Linked DNA regions of Homo sapiens: region 1 is linked to region 2. The links come from fine-mapping of genetic effects on gene expression. A gene starts in region 2. The other region holds a variant in brackets. All regions are shown on one strand. Distances are from middle to middle.

Region 1 (8,306 bases), 160 kb before region 2:
AGGGGAACACTGACTGACCTTGGCCCTGCCTGCCTCCTGGGGTTAGTGTTAGGATCCAATAATACAGATAAAAAGTTGGACAGTGCTTTACTCACTGCTCTAAAAATGTGAGGGATTATTAAGCTGGCTGGCCTGGGGGCACTCGTAAACAGTGTGTGTAAAGAGCGGGTGTTTTGAGTAGGGGGTGGGGGAGAGTTTTCAGGCTGCAGGTTAAAAGCTTCTGCTAGACAGGGCTCCGCTGCAAGGTTTTCTGCATCTGCAGGGTGGGATGTGTCCCAGAAGATCCCATTGCTGTCCCACGTGAGGACACTCTATGCTTCCTTCCTTCTGACCCTTGGAATCACAGCTCTCCAAGTGTGGCCTCGCTCCCTCCCGATTCAGAGCAAGTAGCAGATACCCCAACCCTGCTGTTTCCTCACTCTGGGTCCCATTCATTCCTAACAAAGCACAATCCCAATTATTGATTTGCATGTGTGAGGTTTTGCTGTCTCTCCCCTTAGACATGGTTCTCAACCTACTTGCGTCGCACATTAGAATGACTTGGAGGGCTTGTTCAAAAATACCCATGCCCAGGCCCAGGCCCACCCCAGGCCAAGTAATCAGAATCTCTGGGGGTGGAGCCCTGGCACGGGTGTTCTTCTTAAGGCTCCCAGGTGAGTCTAAAATGTAACCAGGGTTGGGACCCCCCAACCAGTCACAGTTGGAGCTCCAAAGAGACAAGCGCTGTGTCTTCCTTGTTCCCTGTGGCATCTCCAGAGCCTAGCCCAGATCTTAGCACTTAGTAGGTGTTCAATAAATGCTTATTTAGTGAATTAGTAACTCCCACTTACTGCGTGCCCCTGGACTAATCTTCCCTCTCTTGGGCTCAGCGTCCTCCTCTGAGGAATGAGGGAATAGACTAGACAATCCCCAAGGTACCTCCTGCTCTAAGAAGCCATAATTCTGTGGTTCTACACAGACCCTCTTGCTCGCACCTCCTGCCTCATCTGTGTTCTCGGTGCACCTGAGCTCTCCAGGGACAGGAACCGTGCCTGGCTCATCTCACCCCACTCCCATGCCTGAGACGTTGCCTGGCACAGAGTGGGCAGTCAGTAGAATCTTGGTGAATAAAGGGGTGTGTAGGCGGATGACTGTGTCATATGAAGAAAAGGACAGATTGCCTGTGGCCCTTGTTAACCACCCAGAATGGAAATTCCTGTTGAAAATCCATTCCTAAGCCTGTGACTCACAAAGGACCTGACAATTCATCTCACACCATGGGAAGGGACACCCTCTTATTCCCAAAGGGTGGTTCAACCTGGAATAAACTGTCCCAGGTGACCTCCAAGCCTTAGAAAGTTCTAGAGCAAGTCTGGAACCAGGATCTTGAGTAGCACTGGACCAGAGGGGCTCGGGGAGTGTGTATGTGGCTCCACAAAGGACTATCCTCCCCTAGGGCTTAGTCTCAGTCATCCAGCCCTGATTCTAGACCAGCTTGACTGTTGGCCTCTGATGGATTCTGGAGAAGTACTGAGGTGATGTGGACAGAGTGTGGCATGGGGCAGGGAGTACCGTGGGCCCTCAAGTGGTCTGTTCTGGCCTGTTCCAGAGCAGGAGAAGCCACAGAGGCCCAGGGCTGACAAACGAGTCTCTTCCTGATGAGGCATAGGTTTGCTCCTTGTACTCTGGCTTCCCTGAATGGGAAAAGGAAAGCCACATTCTTCGAGTCACTGACTCTTTCTGCCTCCTAAGCCTAAAAAAGTGATTTCACTCATTGAGGGTATGACTGACCTGAAGATGCAATGTGTCAGTACCACAGTCTCTGGTTTCCTGAAAATTCCATTCTTTCCTCAGATAGTTGCTCTGTCCAGAGGTGGCTCTAGGCCTAATCCCTCTACCACTTAACTGGTGGTTCTGAGAACTTGCCGGATTTTCAGCCGTTAGTATAATTCTGAGAGCTCTGGGAGGGAGATTTTATGCAACAGTGATTCCAAACTTTCCTTTAAGGAGCTTGTAATTAGAGAAAAAGGAGAACTAACCCAACTCAGTTCAATATAATAATTATTAAGAATCAACAAGGTTAGGCCATTGTGGGTATATAAATCTGAATCAAACACATGTCCCATGAATCAGTGCACAATCTCAAGTAGTTCTAGCAAAAGACATGCATGATTAGGATGCAATTTGAAAAGCTTCTTGGGTTACATAGGGCTTCAGCAGCGCCCGGAAGGCATGCATCAGACACACCAGAGGGGGCAGCTTGCAGAAAAGGCCACAGATTCCTCCCATCCCATTCACTTACTTCTGTACATGTGACTTTGCCTCTCTTCCAATCAAGAAGTACAGCCTATTTCTCTCTCCCTCTCTCTCTGTCTCTTTTTTTTTTTTTTTTTTTTTTTTTGAGACAGAGTTTCACTCCTGTCACCCAGGCTGGAGTGCAATGGCACCATCTGCCTCCCGGGTTCAAGCGATTCTCCTGCCTCAGCCTCCTGAGTAACTGGGATAACAGGCACCCACAACCACACTTGGCTAATTTTTGTATTTTTAGTAGAGATGGGGTTTCACCATGTTGGCCAGGCTGGTCTCGAACTCCTGACCTCCAGTGATCCACCCACCTTGGCCTCCCAAAGTGCTGGGATTACACGTATGAGCCACCACGCCTGGCCAGTACAGCCTATTTCTCAATCCCTTCCGTCTGAACTTAGCCATGTACCTTGCTTTGGCCAGTGGAACATTAAAAAGTGTGATACAGCAGAGGTTTAAAAAATGTCATCGCCATGAGGCTCACTATAGACACATGGCCTCACTATCCCTTTCACCCCAGCCTGCAGCCAGTACCAGCTGCCAGCCATCAGAAGCCGTCCTAGACCAGCTGCATGACAGAAGCTCACCCAAGGTGAGACCAGCAGAAGAACCACCAAGCTGAGCCCAGCCCAAATGACTGACCCACAGAAACGTGACCTAAATTATTATTTTAAGCCATTATGTTTTGAGGTGCTTTGTTATGCAACAAAACTAATATATAACAAAACTAATTCTTATATTTGGCACATATTAGAAAAGCCAGGTCATGTGCCTACTGTGCCCAACATTTTCCTTTTAGATTCTTATGCCACAGCCCCTAGCAGGAACCCTCACCCGTCCCCACCTTCCCACTCCACTCAGTTATATTTGCTGGCCAGTCCTTCTCAAGTAACTGGGTGACTGGATGGGGAGGAGATCAGGGTCAAGGGCCATTCCTTGATGGCCATTCCCCCATCCCCACTCTCCCCATGGACACATGATTTGAGATATCAAAGAATAACTCAGAGCATTTAAAAAGTTATTTTGCAAGCAGTTTAGTTGTTTTGCATACAAAGTGTTTTCTCAGATGTGAGGAAGTCAGCTGGTAGACTGAATCAGGGAACAAGGGCACAACAGAATTAATGGGCAGGGGGGCCGCTGGAGAAAAACAGCAGGGAGTCTGGGAGCAGTGGACCTTGTTGGCAAATGCTGAGGGTAAATGGATTCGCTGGCAGCTAACAAAGAGGTCAGCATGGCATTCCATCCTTGGACGGCCAGCGAGGGATAGTACAGAAAGCACTTTCAGTTATTCAGGGATTCTTCAGAAGCCCTTGGCTTTCAGCTGTGGGTGTGTCACAGGCCCTCTCCCTTGTCACCTGCACCTCAGGGAGTCCAGGTCTGACCTTTCCCTGGTTAGAGTGTCTCGCCAAGCAAAGATGTCATCACCAGCTCACCACAAGGCCAACGCTGAAGGCCATCTGGACACCTCAGGACAGGGCCGTTCAGCTGCAATCTCTGCAGGGCCTGGGACAGGCTGCCTTGACAAGGAGACAAGGACACTACCCAGTGCCTCCAGCAGCCACATGGCACAGCCCGAGCTTCAGACTTGCGAGGCCTCCCCACATTTCCTGCAAAGGGGTAGGCATGCAGGGAAGCTTGCCTTTTTTCTTTTTTTCTTTTTTTTTTTTTTTTTTTTTTTTTAGGATAAGTTTAGAGTCGATTCATTGGATTCACTCGTTTTTCCCCCCATTCTATTTTGAAAGACTTGAGACCTTTCTGATTTTTTATTTAAGCAAAATCTGTCATTAAAATGTTCTCAGCTATCAGGGAGGAGAGCGTATTCCTGCTTAGACACTTTCTGACCAACCTGAAAAACTTTCACTCTTGCACAACTGTGAATTTCTCTAAATTAAAGGAGAGAAAATGGAAAAAGCCTTTTTGTGTACTGTTCTCTCTCTGTGGGGAGAAGAACTTCCGGGAAAATTTCCATCATTTAAAAAAACGACACAGAAACAAAGCAAGAAGAAAAAATTACAGATTTTCTTAAGATATATTATTTATATATATGTTTTATATTTTATATATATATATATACATATATAAATTTAAACACCCTGGAGCATATATTCTGCATGTACACCATTACTACGGGGGTTACCATGGAAGCAACATCAAAAATCCTGTAGTACCTAATTAGGTTTCCCTGAGGACAGGAGCTGATTGCCAGTGACGAAATGAACTTCTGGGTTTGCAGCAATGGTTGGTAAAATTACCAGTCAGCAAATGCTCCATGGAACTAGAGGAAGAAAGGGAGGCGGGTGGGGGTTGGGAAGCAAAGGTGGAAAAATGGTGGCTCTAAAAGAGGCCAGCCAGTGAACAGGCCTTGTCAGGGAAGTCTATGATTCTACCATAAACAAGATGCTTAGGGCGTTGGGGTCCACGCTACCCCGCTCTGTGTCTAAGAAGAAATTG[T/C]CCTCATCTGAAACCATCCCACTCCCTGGGCCATGTGTGATGTCCCACAGTGGCTCTTTGGTCCGGCCAGGATAGGCTTCTCCTGAGCGCTTCGCCAGAGCTCACTTTTGGTCTCTTGCAGTGTGTAATGACCACTCATGGGGGTTATGGAGTCTGAAGTTTGTTTGGGACTAACAGAGACCAGTGGTGATCATAAATCCTTTCCCCTGTCCTCAGTTCTCAGAGAAAGAAAGCCAAGTTTCGGCATTTGAGCGAGCCACTATTTTTTACTCACGTAGCAGGAATTTCTTGATCCCTGAGCACGTCACCACTAGGGATAGAGCATCCCACCTCTGGCCATCTGTGTGTGGCAAGTCTCTGGACCTCAGATTCCTCAGTGTAATGTGAAGACTTGGATGCAATTTGTGGTTTTCCATTTTCTCTGGGCTGTGGGGCCATTTCTTTCATAAGATTTTTCATGTACGCCCAACATGGGAAACAGACAAATTCAGAGCTGTTGTAGTTGAAAGGGTAGAGAAGAACATTCAAAGATCAACTCACTCACCTCCTCCTCCAGCCTAGGTCTCTGTAGTGGACCCCATGCTCTCCATAGAACCCTTTGACTGGAAATCCTTTGGATGGACCAGCTGGTCTCTAGTTGTAAGGAGAGACAAGGTGTGATGCTGGAAATCAAGTGTTTGGGGTCTGGTTCAAGAGGTGCTCGATGCACAGGCAGGGAGCTTTGCCCCGATCAGCTTATTCACTCATTCATTCATTGAGCATGAGTTGAGCCCCCATTATGTGACAGTCCTTGGTAAGCTCTAGGGATATAGCAAGACAAGTAGACAAGGCCCCTGTCCCCACAGAGCTTACATTTCAGGGGAGGAAAACAGATATTAAACAGGTAAACCATTTAATTTTAGAGAGTGATGCCTGCCAGGAAGAGAATAAGACAGGGCAAAGGAAATGAGAGAAGTCCCAGACAGCCAGGACAGGGAGGGCTCTCTATGGAAGGGACCTCTGAATCCAAAGTGAGCCTTGCAAAGGTATGCATTACAGAGGGGACAGCATGTGCAAAAACCCCAAGGCAGGATGGAGCTTAGAGAGTTGGAGAGATAAAAGAAAGAAGACCAATGTGAGAAAGAAGTGAGGGATGATACCAGGTGAGACCAAGAAGGTAGCAGGACCCAGATCATTGGGACCTTGGATGTCACAGAAGGAGCTTCCTCAAAGGACAGGAGACCACAGACCCACTCCCACCAGGGCCATGTGCACCATGTCACCACTTTCTGAAAACACACTGCCCACAGGTTAAATATGCACCACAGCTCGGGCCTCCGAAACAAAATATCATAGACTGGGTAACTCAAAAAACAGAAATGTATTTTTTCACAGTTCTGGAGGCTGGAAGTCTGAGATCAGGGTGCCAACACGGTCAGGCTCTCTTCCCGGCTTGCAGGTGGCTGCCATCTCACTGTGTCCTCACATGGCAGAGAAAGGGAGAGGGATCTCTCTTTTTCTCTTCTCCTAGAGCTGCAGTCCTATAGGACTAGACCTCATCCTTATGACCTTATTTAAACTTAATTACCTCCCACAGACCCTTTCTCCAAGGCAGTTACATTGGAGGTTAGGGCCTCAACAAATGCGTTTTGGGGAGACACAATTCAGTTCATAGCTATTCCCTTTTGTGTCAAAATTACCCAAAAGCCAGACTGTGGGCCGAGCCAGGTGATTCTGCACATACCATTTCATTGCCATCTCATAATGTCCCTGTAAGGGAGTCATACATCCATTTAGCAGATGAAGAAACCCAAACCAAGACAGGTTCAATCAATTGCCTGGGGCTTGCAGCATTCTGTGTCTTCCAAGTCCCACGCCCTTTCACCTGCCAGCCTGCTAAGCAGGCACTCTATTTGGGGGCTGGCCAGTTTGGGCTTTACTTTGTCTTCTAAAGAAAACTCGGCTGGGCGCGGAGGCTCACGCCTGTAATCCCAGCGCTTTGGCAGGCCGAGGCGGGCGGATCATGAGGTCAGGAGATTGAGAACATCCTGGCTAACACGGTGAAACCCCATCTCTACTAAAAATACAAAAAAACTAGCCGGGCGTGGTGGTGGGCGCCTGTAGTCCCAGCTACTCGGGAGGCTGAGGCAGGAGAATGGCCTGAACCCGGGAGGCAGAGCTTGCAGTGAGTCGAGATCGCACCACTGTACTCCAGCCTGGGTGACAGAACGAGACTCCATCTCAAAAAAAAAAAAAGAAAAAAGAAAAGAAAGAAAACTCAAGCCCACCCTTTAAATGCTCATTCTCAGAAGAATCTTTGCTGACCAGAGAATCAATATATGATTAAAATAAACTGGGTTCTATCCCTGGTGTCCACACCACCTGGGAAACCCACATCGTTATCTGTAATCTAGACTGGGCTATGTTTGTGGAACTAAGACCACGGCTTTCATTTCCACAGATACAATATCCATTTATCATCTTTCCCTTCCTCCTCTTCCCGCCAGTGAACAGGCCTCTATGGAGACCTGGTGATGGGGTCCCTAGCGAGGAAGAGACCATCTTAGTTTAGGAGCCCACTTATGCACCCCAGCATGTTTGCTAATGAAGAAGATTCCTCTGGACAGGCTTGGGGTGGGGTCAGAGGAGACCAACACAGGGCTTAATATATGTGCCCTAGAAATGAACAGGAACACTGGAGATGGGGGATTGTGAGCTGTGGGACTGGAAGGAGAGGGGAGCTGGCTAAGCAGCACCTTGGGCCAGTCCCATGAGAGGGGGAGGCCGGAGCCCACTGAGGACTTGACCACCCATGAGACAGGGACAGTGCTGAGACTGTAAGATCAGGAGCATGTGGCGTTCAGCGCTGTCTTATCTGTTGTGCCACCACCACCTCACCCCTTCCCCTTGCTCCAGATCCATGGAAATGTCAGCTAACCTAGAGGCCTTGGTCATGGGTCCCTCGAGGAGCAACAGGAACAGGAAGGGTGCCTAAAGCGGTTACTAAGTACAGGATGGAGGTGGAGAATTCAGCAGAAAGAGTTTGGCATCAGATGAGCTGTCAAGAGAGAAATGGAAGTTTCCAAGCCCCCAGAGACCAGTGGAAAGACACCGGGTCCCCTCCTGTGTGGGGTGGGAGTTTGTAACCAATTATATTTGAAGCAGTAAGGCCAAGTGACCCCGGCCAATCCTTGGGTTGCTGTGGCCACACCTTGGTCTCATCATGTGCTCCACCCCAGCCATCTTTACATTGCTGCCAGAGCAAATGTTCTAAAATACAAACCAAATCATGTCACCTCCCCTTCTAGAACCTTTCCGTGGCAACCCAGAGTGTCCACCCTCCTAGCTGCACTTGGCCAAAAGGGCCTTTTCCCACCTGGCACCAGCTGGCCCCTCTATCCCCATCACCTGCCACACCCGGTGTCTCATCCCAGCTAAACCAAGTTACCAGTAACCCCTAAGCTTGCGCCCTTCCATCTTCTGTACAAGCACTCCCTCTTCTCAGCTTCTTCACCAGAGACCTCCAGATCCAGCGTCCCACCCTTCCACAGGCCTAAGCTGGTCCCTTCTGACTCCCAGGTGGGGCTGGGTGC
Region 2 (8,265 bases):
TTTTTTTTTTTTTCACTTAATGATATATTTTGACAACTTCTGGGACTAAATTTCTTTTTTGTGTGTTGTTGTTTACTTTAAAAAAAATTTTTTTTAAAGAAACGGAGATGGGGTTTCACCATGTTGGCCAGGCTGGTCTCTAACTCCTGGACTCAAGCAATCTACCTGCCTCGGCCTCCCAAAGTGCTGGGATTACAGGCATGTGCCACCGTGCTCGGCCTGTACTAAATTTCTAGGAGCAAAGTTCTAGGGGCTGTGTCAGGCCAGCTGAGTGAGAGGGTGGTGTGAGGAGGCACAGGCAGGTCCTTACTAATCACACAGCATCAGAGCTGCCAACTCGAGTGTCGACAGCCTTTCCTGGGCACACCTTCCTGAACTCACTCTGAAGGGAGGGAGGCTATTAGGAAAGAAATATAAGCTGAAAATGCCCCCGAAAGGTCCACTCACAGAAAACCAAGAGCTGGCCACCACCCTGCCAGCAGTGGTGACGGGAATCATGCCAGTGACTCAGGCAGCAGCCACAGCTCCAAAGTCCTGGAGCCGGCCCCGCCCAACACACCGGATGCCACAAAGCACCACCTACCTGAGCATACTGTTCCTTGAGTGGACCAGAGAGCCGGAGGACAGCACAGACATCAGCTCCAAGTCTGCAGGACAGGGAGATCAGAATCCAGTTAGCCTAGAATTTCCAGGAGCTTCCATGTCCCAGAAAGGGAGTCAAGAGGCCTGTGTTGAAGTCCCATTTCTACTACTGGTATTATGTAACTTTGGTAGGTCTCAATGTCCCTGATCCTGTTTCCTCATCAGAAAATGGGGATAACACTTTCTGTTCTGTCTCCCACACAGGATTATTATGAAACTCTAAAGAATATAAAAGAGCCCTGAAACTAACAGGTAAAACCTATAAAGTGCTAATTACAGTGTGAACAGGCGCACAATATTCTAGCTGGATTAGGTTATTGCCCAGACCCTAAACTAATTCTCTCATAGCCAGAGGTATCTGTCTCCACTGACTTGGTCACCATAACATATATCATTTATTAATTCACTGGTTGGGCATGGTGGCTCACACCTGTAATCCCAATACTTTGGGAGGCCAAGGCAGGAGGAGTGCTTGAGGCCAGGAGTTCAAGACCAGCCTGGGCAACACAATAAGACCCAGAGATACCATCTCCACCAAAAAATTTAAAAATTAGCTGAGCATGGCAGCATGTGCCTGTACTCCCAGCTACTCCAGAGGCTGAGGTGGGAGCATTCCTGAGCCCAGGAGTTCCAGGCTACAGTGAGCCATGATTGTACCACTGTATGCCAGCCTGGGAGACAGAGTGAGACCCTGTCTCATAAAAATGAAATAAGAAAAGCAAATTTAAAAAACTGAAACAAAAGCCAGGTGTGGTGGCTCACGCCTGTAATCCCAGTACTTTGGAAGGCTGAGGCAGCAGATCACCTGAGGTCAGGAGTTTGAGACCAGCCTGACCAACACGGTGAAACCCTGTCTCTACTAAAAGCATAAAATTAGCCGGACATGATGGCGCATGCCTGTAATCCCAGCTACTCGGGAGGCTGAGGCAGGAGAATCACCTGAACCCAGGAGGTGGAAGTTGCAGTGAGCCGAGATCGCCCCATTGCACTCCAGCCTGGGCAACAAGAGTGAAAATCCATCTCAAAAATGAAAATAAAAATAAAAATAACTCATTCGTTATTTAATTTACTTAACCAACCTTTTTTTTTTTTTTTTTTTTTGAGACGGAGTCTTGCTCCACCACCCAGGCTGGAGTGCAATGGCGCGATCTCGGCTCACTGCAATCTCCGCCTCCCAGGTTTGAGCGATTCTCCTGCCTCGGCCTCCCAAGTAGCTGGGATTACAGGCGCCCGCCACTACACCCGGCTAATTTTTGTATTTTTAGTACAGACGGGGTTTTGCCATGTTGGCCAGGCTGGTCTCAAACTCCTGATCTCGTGATCCGCCCGCCTCAGCCTCGCAAAGTGCTGGGATTACAGACGTGAGCCACCGCACACGGCCCTTCTTTTTTTCTCTTTTTTGAGACAGAGTCTCACTCTGTCGTCCAGGCTGGAGTACAGTGGCACCATCTCGTCTCACCACAACCTCTGCCTCCTGGCTTAACCAACCATTTATTGGGTACCATATTTGGATCTAGGTGATACAAATGTGAATGATACATGCTTCCTGTCCTAGCCTTGAGATGCTCACAATACACTTAACGCACAGGAAGATAAGTGCTGTTTTTGAGACTGAGTCTCACTCTGTAGCCCAGGCTGGAATGCAGTGGTGCAATCTCAGGTCACTGCAACCTGCACCTCCTGGGTTTAAGCTATTCTCCTGCCTCAGCCTCCCAAGTAACTGGGACTACAGGCCGGCGCCACCACGTCCCACTAATTTTTGTATTTTTAGTAGAGAAGGGTTTTACCATGTTGGTCAGGCTGGTCTCGAACTCCTGAGCTCAAGTGATCCACCCTTCTCGGCCTCTCAAAGTGCTAGGATTACAGGCGTGAGCCACTGCGCCCAACGATAAGTGTTCTTTGTTTTGTTTTGGTTTGGTTTTTTAAGAGTCAGGGTCTTGCTGTCACCCAGGCTAGAGTGCAGTGGTATGATCACAGCTCACTACAATCTTGAACTCCTGGGCTCAGGCAATCCTCGCACCTCAGCCTCCTGAGTATCTGGGATTACTGGCATGCACCACCATACCCAGCTAATTTTTTTTATCTTTTGTAGAGAGGGGGTCTCACTATGTTGCCCTGGCTGTAAGTGTTCTTATTTTCATGTTTCAGATGAGGAAGCTGAGGTTGTGAAAGGAGGATTGACTCCCCCAAAGCAACACTGCAAGTAGTGAAGCCAAGATTGGTAAAATAAATATAGCCAACATTTAGTTCCTGCACCTCTGCTAGGTGCCAATAATTATTCTAAGCCCTTCACACACATTATCTCATTTAATCCCCACAACCACCCTATTATCATCCCCATTTTACAGATGACAAAACTGAGACGCAGGCCAGGTGCGGTGGTGGTTCACGTCTGTAATCCCAGCACTCTGGGAGGCCGAGGCAGGCAGATCACCTGAGGTCAGGAGTTCCAGACCAGCCTGGCCAACATGGTGAAACCTGTCTCTACTAAAAATACAAAAGTTAGCTGGGCATGGTGGCACACACCTGTAATCCCAGCTACTCGGGAGGCTGAGACAGGAAAATCGCTTGAACCCAGGAGACAGAGGTTGCGGTGAGCCGCAACCTGGGTGCGCTCCAGCCTGGGTGACAGAGCAAGACTCCGTCTCAAAAAAAAAAAAAAAAAAAAAAAAAAAACATGAGGCACAGAGTGAATGACAGATGTGTACAAGATCACACACTAATCAACAGTGAGCCAGGGTTTGCATCCCAGCAGTCTAATTCCAGAGCCTGTGCTTCGGACCACTATTTGACGTCAGGGTTTGGAGGTGAGGAGAAATGCAACTTAGGAAAAGGTGGTGAGATACTTAGTGATGAAAAATTCAGGTGGTGACCTCTGCTCTGGGCTCTCCCACACCTTCATAGAACCCCCGTGGTACCCAAAAGCAGCTTCCTGGTACCCCCACCACACTGGCCTTCAAGAGGAGAGGAGCCCCACTTTCTCCCCAACCTCTGCTCTCCTAGCCCAGGTCTCAGCAAAATGCTCCTGCACAGAAGATCTTGCTTTGACAGAAAACACTGTGCAAAAGGTATTATTATTTGGGGAGGCAGCCAGATAAAACAGAAAGAAACCAGTCCTTGGCGCAAGATAAAGTTGAATTTGTTTGGGTTTTTTTTCTTTTTGTTTCAATTATATATTAATTGCTGAGATGCCCATCATGAACCACAAAGCTGAATTTGAATCCTGGATTTGCCACTTACTTTGTGACCAGCAAGGGTTTTTTGTTGTTAACTTCGTATGTTATTTTATTTTATTTTACTTCGAGACAGGGTCTCAGGCTCTGCTGCAAGGACTGGAGGACAGTAGCATGATTACAATTCACTGTAGCCCCCAGGTTCAAGCGATCCTCCCACCTCAGCCTCCTGAGTAGCTTGGACTAGAGGTGCTCGCCATCGCACTAGGCTAACTTTTCCATTTTTTTGTAGAGACTAGGGTCTTACTGTGTTGCCCAGGCTGGTCTCCACTACTGGGCTCTCAAGCCATCCTCGCACCTCTGTCTCCCAAAGTGCTGGGGTGACAGACATGACCACCACACCCGGCCTGTTTAACTTTTTAAGAGCCTCAGTTTCTTCACCTGTGAAATGGAGATGCTAATAATGGCACACAGTACCTAACAAAGAGGTGAAGAGGGTTTTTTGTTTTGTTTTTTTAAGACAGGGTCTCGCTCTGTCGCCCAGGCTGGAGTGCAGTGGCCAATCTCGCCTCACTGCAACCTCCGCCTCCCGGGCTCAAGCGATTCTTCTACCTCAGGCTCCTGAATAGCTGGGACCACAGGCACGCGTCACCACGCCCAGCTACTTTTTGGATTTTTCGTAGAGGCGGGGTCTCGCCATGTTGCCCAGGCTGGTATCCAACGCCTGGTATATAGAAAGTGCCTTCGTAGGAACCATTATTAATGCTTCTCAGAGAGACCTGCAGCTGAAGGTCTTTGGAGAGGTGGTCACCTGCTTCTTTGAGGCTCGCCTGTGTAGACTACTGTTTTATGTAATGGTGGCATTCCACCTTCCCCAGCCCAGTGCTCCTCCTGCCTTGCAAACGGACGACCCGTACTCCAAAGCTCACTCCGTGACACCCAAAAGCACTCCTCGTGTCACGTGATGCGGAGAGCTCCCCCTTCCACCTTTCCCGCCTCACGGACACCTGCTCTGCAGCGCCTCGGTCACGAAGTCCTTCCCGGATTTCCTCTTGCCGCTGAACAGCAGTACCAGCCGCGGGGCGCCTCCCAGCGGGGCCATGGGGCCGCCACGCCTCGCGATGCCTGAAGCTGACACTTCTCCCTACCCCTAAAATCGGGACACCGCGCGGAATGGACGCGGCCACTAAGCGGAGCGGCAACAAGGAACAATCGCGCCCCTCCTCGCCGTAGCTGCGAACAGGGCTGACCGCCCGCGACCGTGCCCTCAGCTCATGTCCAAACAGATATGGGGAGAAAAGGGTGAGACACGCGGAGAGAAAGGCGGTTCCTTCACAGAGCAGCCTCCCCTCGTGAAGCTCCCCCACCCGAACTCACTTAGAACAGTCCAGCCCCGCCCAGAACCTTCGCTCACAGCCTGGCCTGCTTAACTGACACCCGGGGAGGAACCGGACGCGACTACCTTCCTCCGAGGGGGGTGACGTCTGAAATTTCCTGAGGTGAACCCCATGTTCCCTTCCGCGCAGCCCTAAAACTTTAGGAAAAAAAATCTCTGGAGTGAGATCACGTTGGAGACGTTTTGGAAACTGCCCTTTTGCCTGTGCGTTATAGTACATGTGCCACAGCAAATCTGCGCGCGCCCCAGAGTGGGAATGGGTCTTCCTGGGGGCGTAAGGCAGCCCTGACGCGAGCGGCGTGTCTGGCCACGTCATGTCGGGGGAGGAGCAGAATCGCGCACACGATATTTCATTGTCAAGCAGATTTTATAACCCGAGACGTCACTAAGATGTGGCCCTTTAAGCCCGGCGAGAAACCTTTGATTGCTTTTCTAGCCGCAGCCTCCGGCCCAAAGGTTTTCGGAAGCAAACGGCGTGGGTGACATCAATAGTAAGGGAGCGTTGAATCCCTAGATGAGATTGCCTGGTTTCATCCGAAGTCTGGCTCCCAGCCAGAAGTTTGAGAGGCAGGATAAGAATAATCTGTCCTTTCCCTGCATCCCCGGTTCTGCCTCTTCCCGCAGTAGGTGACGGGTTGCCCCAGCTGAGTACGTCGAGTTGTTTTTGGCTATGACTTGCCGTCCTGCATTTTTCTGAGCATGTCAGAACAGAGCCTGCAACTCATTACTGCCTCCACTAGAGAAAAAGTGTAGTGTGGAGACTTAGGGAGAAACCATTAATTTCCTGAATGTTGAAAAGAGGCACAGGAGAGTGGTCAGATGCAAAAAGAACAGACTTAAGGAGGTGGTTTTTTGTTTTTTGGGGTTTTTTTTGTTTTTTTTCAGCAACCCAGAAAACACTGCACTCATCAACGCCCTAGAAGGCAGCACAGAGTGGATTTTCAGTCCCAGCTTGGACACTTAGCAAGTCACTCTGAGTTTACCACTGATAAGGCCCACTTCCCAGGGTTATAATAAGAAAGGAATGAAGAAAATATATGACAAGGTACAATAAAATACTTTGTAAGTTCTCAAGTATCATCCAGATGTAAGGGGTTGTTATTTATTCTTAGCACTTCGTCATTCAACACAGAATCAGATTTTCCAGCTCATCTTCAATAAACATGTATTTGGGCCTCCACGGAAAGTCCACATCTCCTGTTTTACCTGAGTCACATGGAAGGAGTCAGAACTTACTCCCGGAGTCTCTTTCCTCACCTGACCCAATGCACGCCCCTTACCTCCCTCTCTGACTCTGAGATCCAGCTCCCTGAATACCTAGTGAGCGATCAGAAAACTTCCCCCAGGCTCACGCCTGTAATCTCCGCACTTTGGGAGGCCAAGGCGGATCACCTGAGGGCAGGAGTTCGAGACCAGCCTGGCCAGCATGGTGAAACCCCATCTCTACTAAAAATACAAAAATTAGCTGGATAGCTGGACGTGGTGGCGGGCACCTGCAATCCAGCTACTCAGGAGGCTGAGGCATGAGAACACTTGAACCTGGGAGGCAGAGGTTGCAGTGAGCCAAGATTGTACCACTGCGCTCCAGCCTGGACAACAGAAAAAGACTCCGTCTCAAAAAATAAAAAAAAACTTCCCCCATACTAGGCTTCCTAGTATGCCTCAACTGAACTCCACTGTCCCTTACTGGTGTCTCAAGTGGAGGCTTTAGTCTCCCAGCCCTCATCCCTCAGCATCCGCTTTGAGTCTATGGCCTCCCTTCCTCCCCATTTTAATTTCCACACCATTACTCATCCTGCCTCTTGGAAAACTATGGTTCCTCTAAGGCTCATGCCACCTGCCTGCGCTACCCTCCTGCTTTCCTCAGTACTGGCAGCCCAGCAATCCTGGTGGTTCATTTTCATTTTCTTTTGTTTCTTTATGCAGACGGGGTCTTGCTATGTTGGCCAGGCTAGTCTGGAATTCCTGGGCTCAAGCAGTCCTCTCTGGCCTCAGCCTCCAAAAGTGCCGGGATTACCAGTGTAAGCCACTGCACCCAGCCTCATTCTCATTTTCTGAGACTCAGCCACTGGCTCCCAGTCTCCTTTTCTACAGAGTTGCTGTCATCATCCTCGGTGACATCACGGTCATGGCCAGCCCATCCAACACCCCGCTGCTCAATCCCTTGGCCCTGGCTGTTCAAAGCCTTTTCCCCCCTCTCCTCCTCAGAGGCCAGCTCCTATGGACACACCCTGGGCTTTGTCATCACCAGAAGCTGCTCAACCTGCAAACTCACATGCTCATCCACCCAACCCTCCAAGGTCACTTGCTCAAATACTCCCCAAAGTAGCACTTCCCTCCCAAGTCCACTAGCTGGTGGAACTGGTTACATTATATAACATGCTCTGCCTGCCTTCCACAACCCAGGGGAAAAAAGTTAAATGTGGCCCGGTGCAGTGGCTCATGCCTGTAATCCCAGCACTTTGGAAGGCCGAGGCGGGCAGATCACGAGGTCAGGAGATCGAGACCATCCTGGGTAACACGGTGAAACCCCATTTCTACTAAAAATACAAAAAAAAAAAAACAAAACAGCCAAGCGTGGTGGCAGGCACCTGTAGTCCCAGCTACACTCGGGAGGCTGAGGCAGGAGAATGGCGTGAACCCAGGAGGTGGAGCTTGCAGTGAGCGGAGATCAGAGATCACGCCACTGCACTCCAGCCTGAACAACAGAGCGAGACTCCATCTCAAAAAAAAAAAAAAAAAAGAAAGAAAAGTTAATGATCCACCTAGATGACAGCCATGGCTTGTTTCTTTTCTTTTTTTGAGACAGGGTCTCACTCTGTGCCCAGGCTGGAAGTGCAGTGGCGGATCATAAGCTCACTGCAGCCTTGATGTCCTGGGCTCAAGCAATCCTTCCACCTTCAGCCTGCTGAGTAGCTGGGACTACAGGTGTGTGCCACCATGCTGAGTTAAACTTTTTTTTTTTTTTTTAATTTTTAGTAGAGATAAGGTCTTGCTATGTTTCCCAGGCTGGTCTCGAACTCCTGGCCTCAAGCCAACCTCCCATCTCAGCCT

What was found. PIP is the estimated chance that this variant, and not a neighbour inherited with it, causes the effect.
Region 1: its variant is the best candidate, but not a certain one, in a credible set for the expression of PMVK in prefrontal cortex (ROSMAP, PIP 0.89).

What each region holds. Positions count from the first base shown.
Region 1 is chr1:154,776,257-154,784,562 of GRCh38, forward strand. The region is part of intron 2 of KCNN3 (potassium calcium-activated channel subfamily N member 3); the gene reads right to left. Among named protein-coding and RNA genes, the nearest start is that of KCNN3, 90 kb to the right of the region's middle. The variant T/C (reference allele first, on the strand shown) is at 4,735.
Region 2 is chr1:154,931,769-154,940,033 of GRCh38, forward strand. It overlaps PMVK (phosphomevalonate kinase), which reads right to left and starts at 4,951. Exons shown (of 5, transcript NM_006556.4): 1 at 4,823-4,951; 2 at 584-647. The coding sequence starts at 4,917. RefSeq lists a silencer at 4,401-4,500 and enhancers at 4,457-5,399, 5,221-5,420, 5,400-6,341.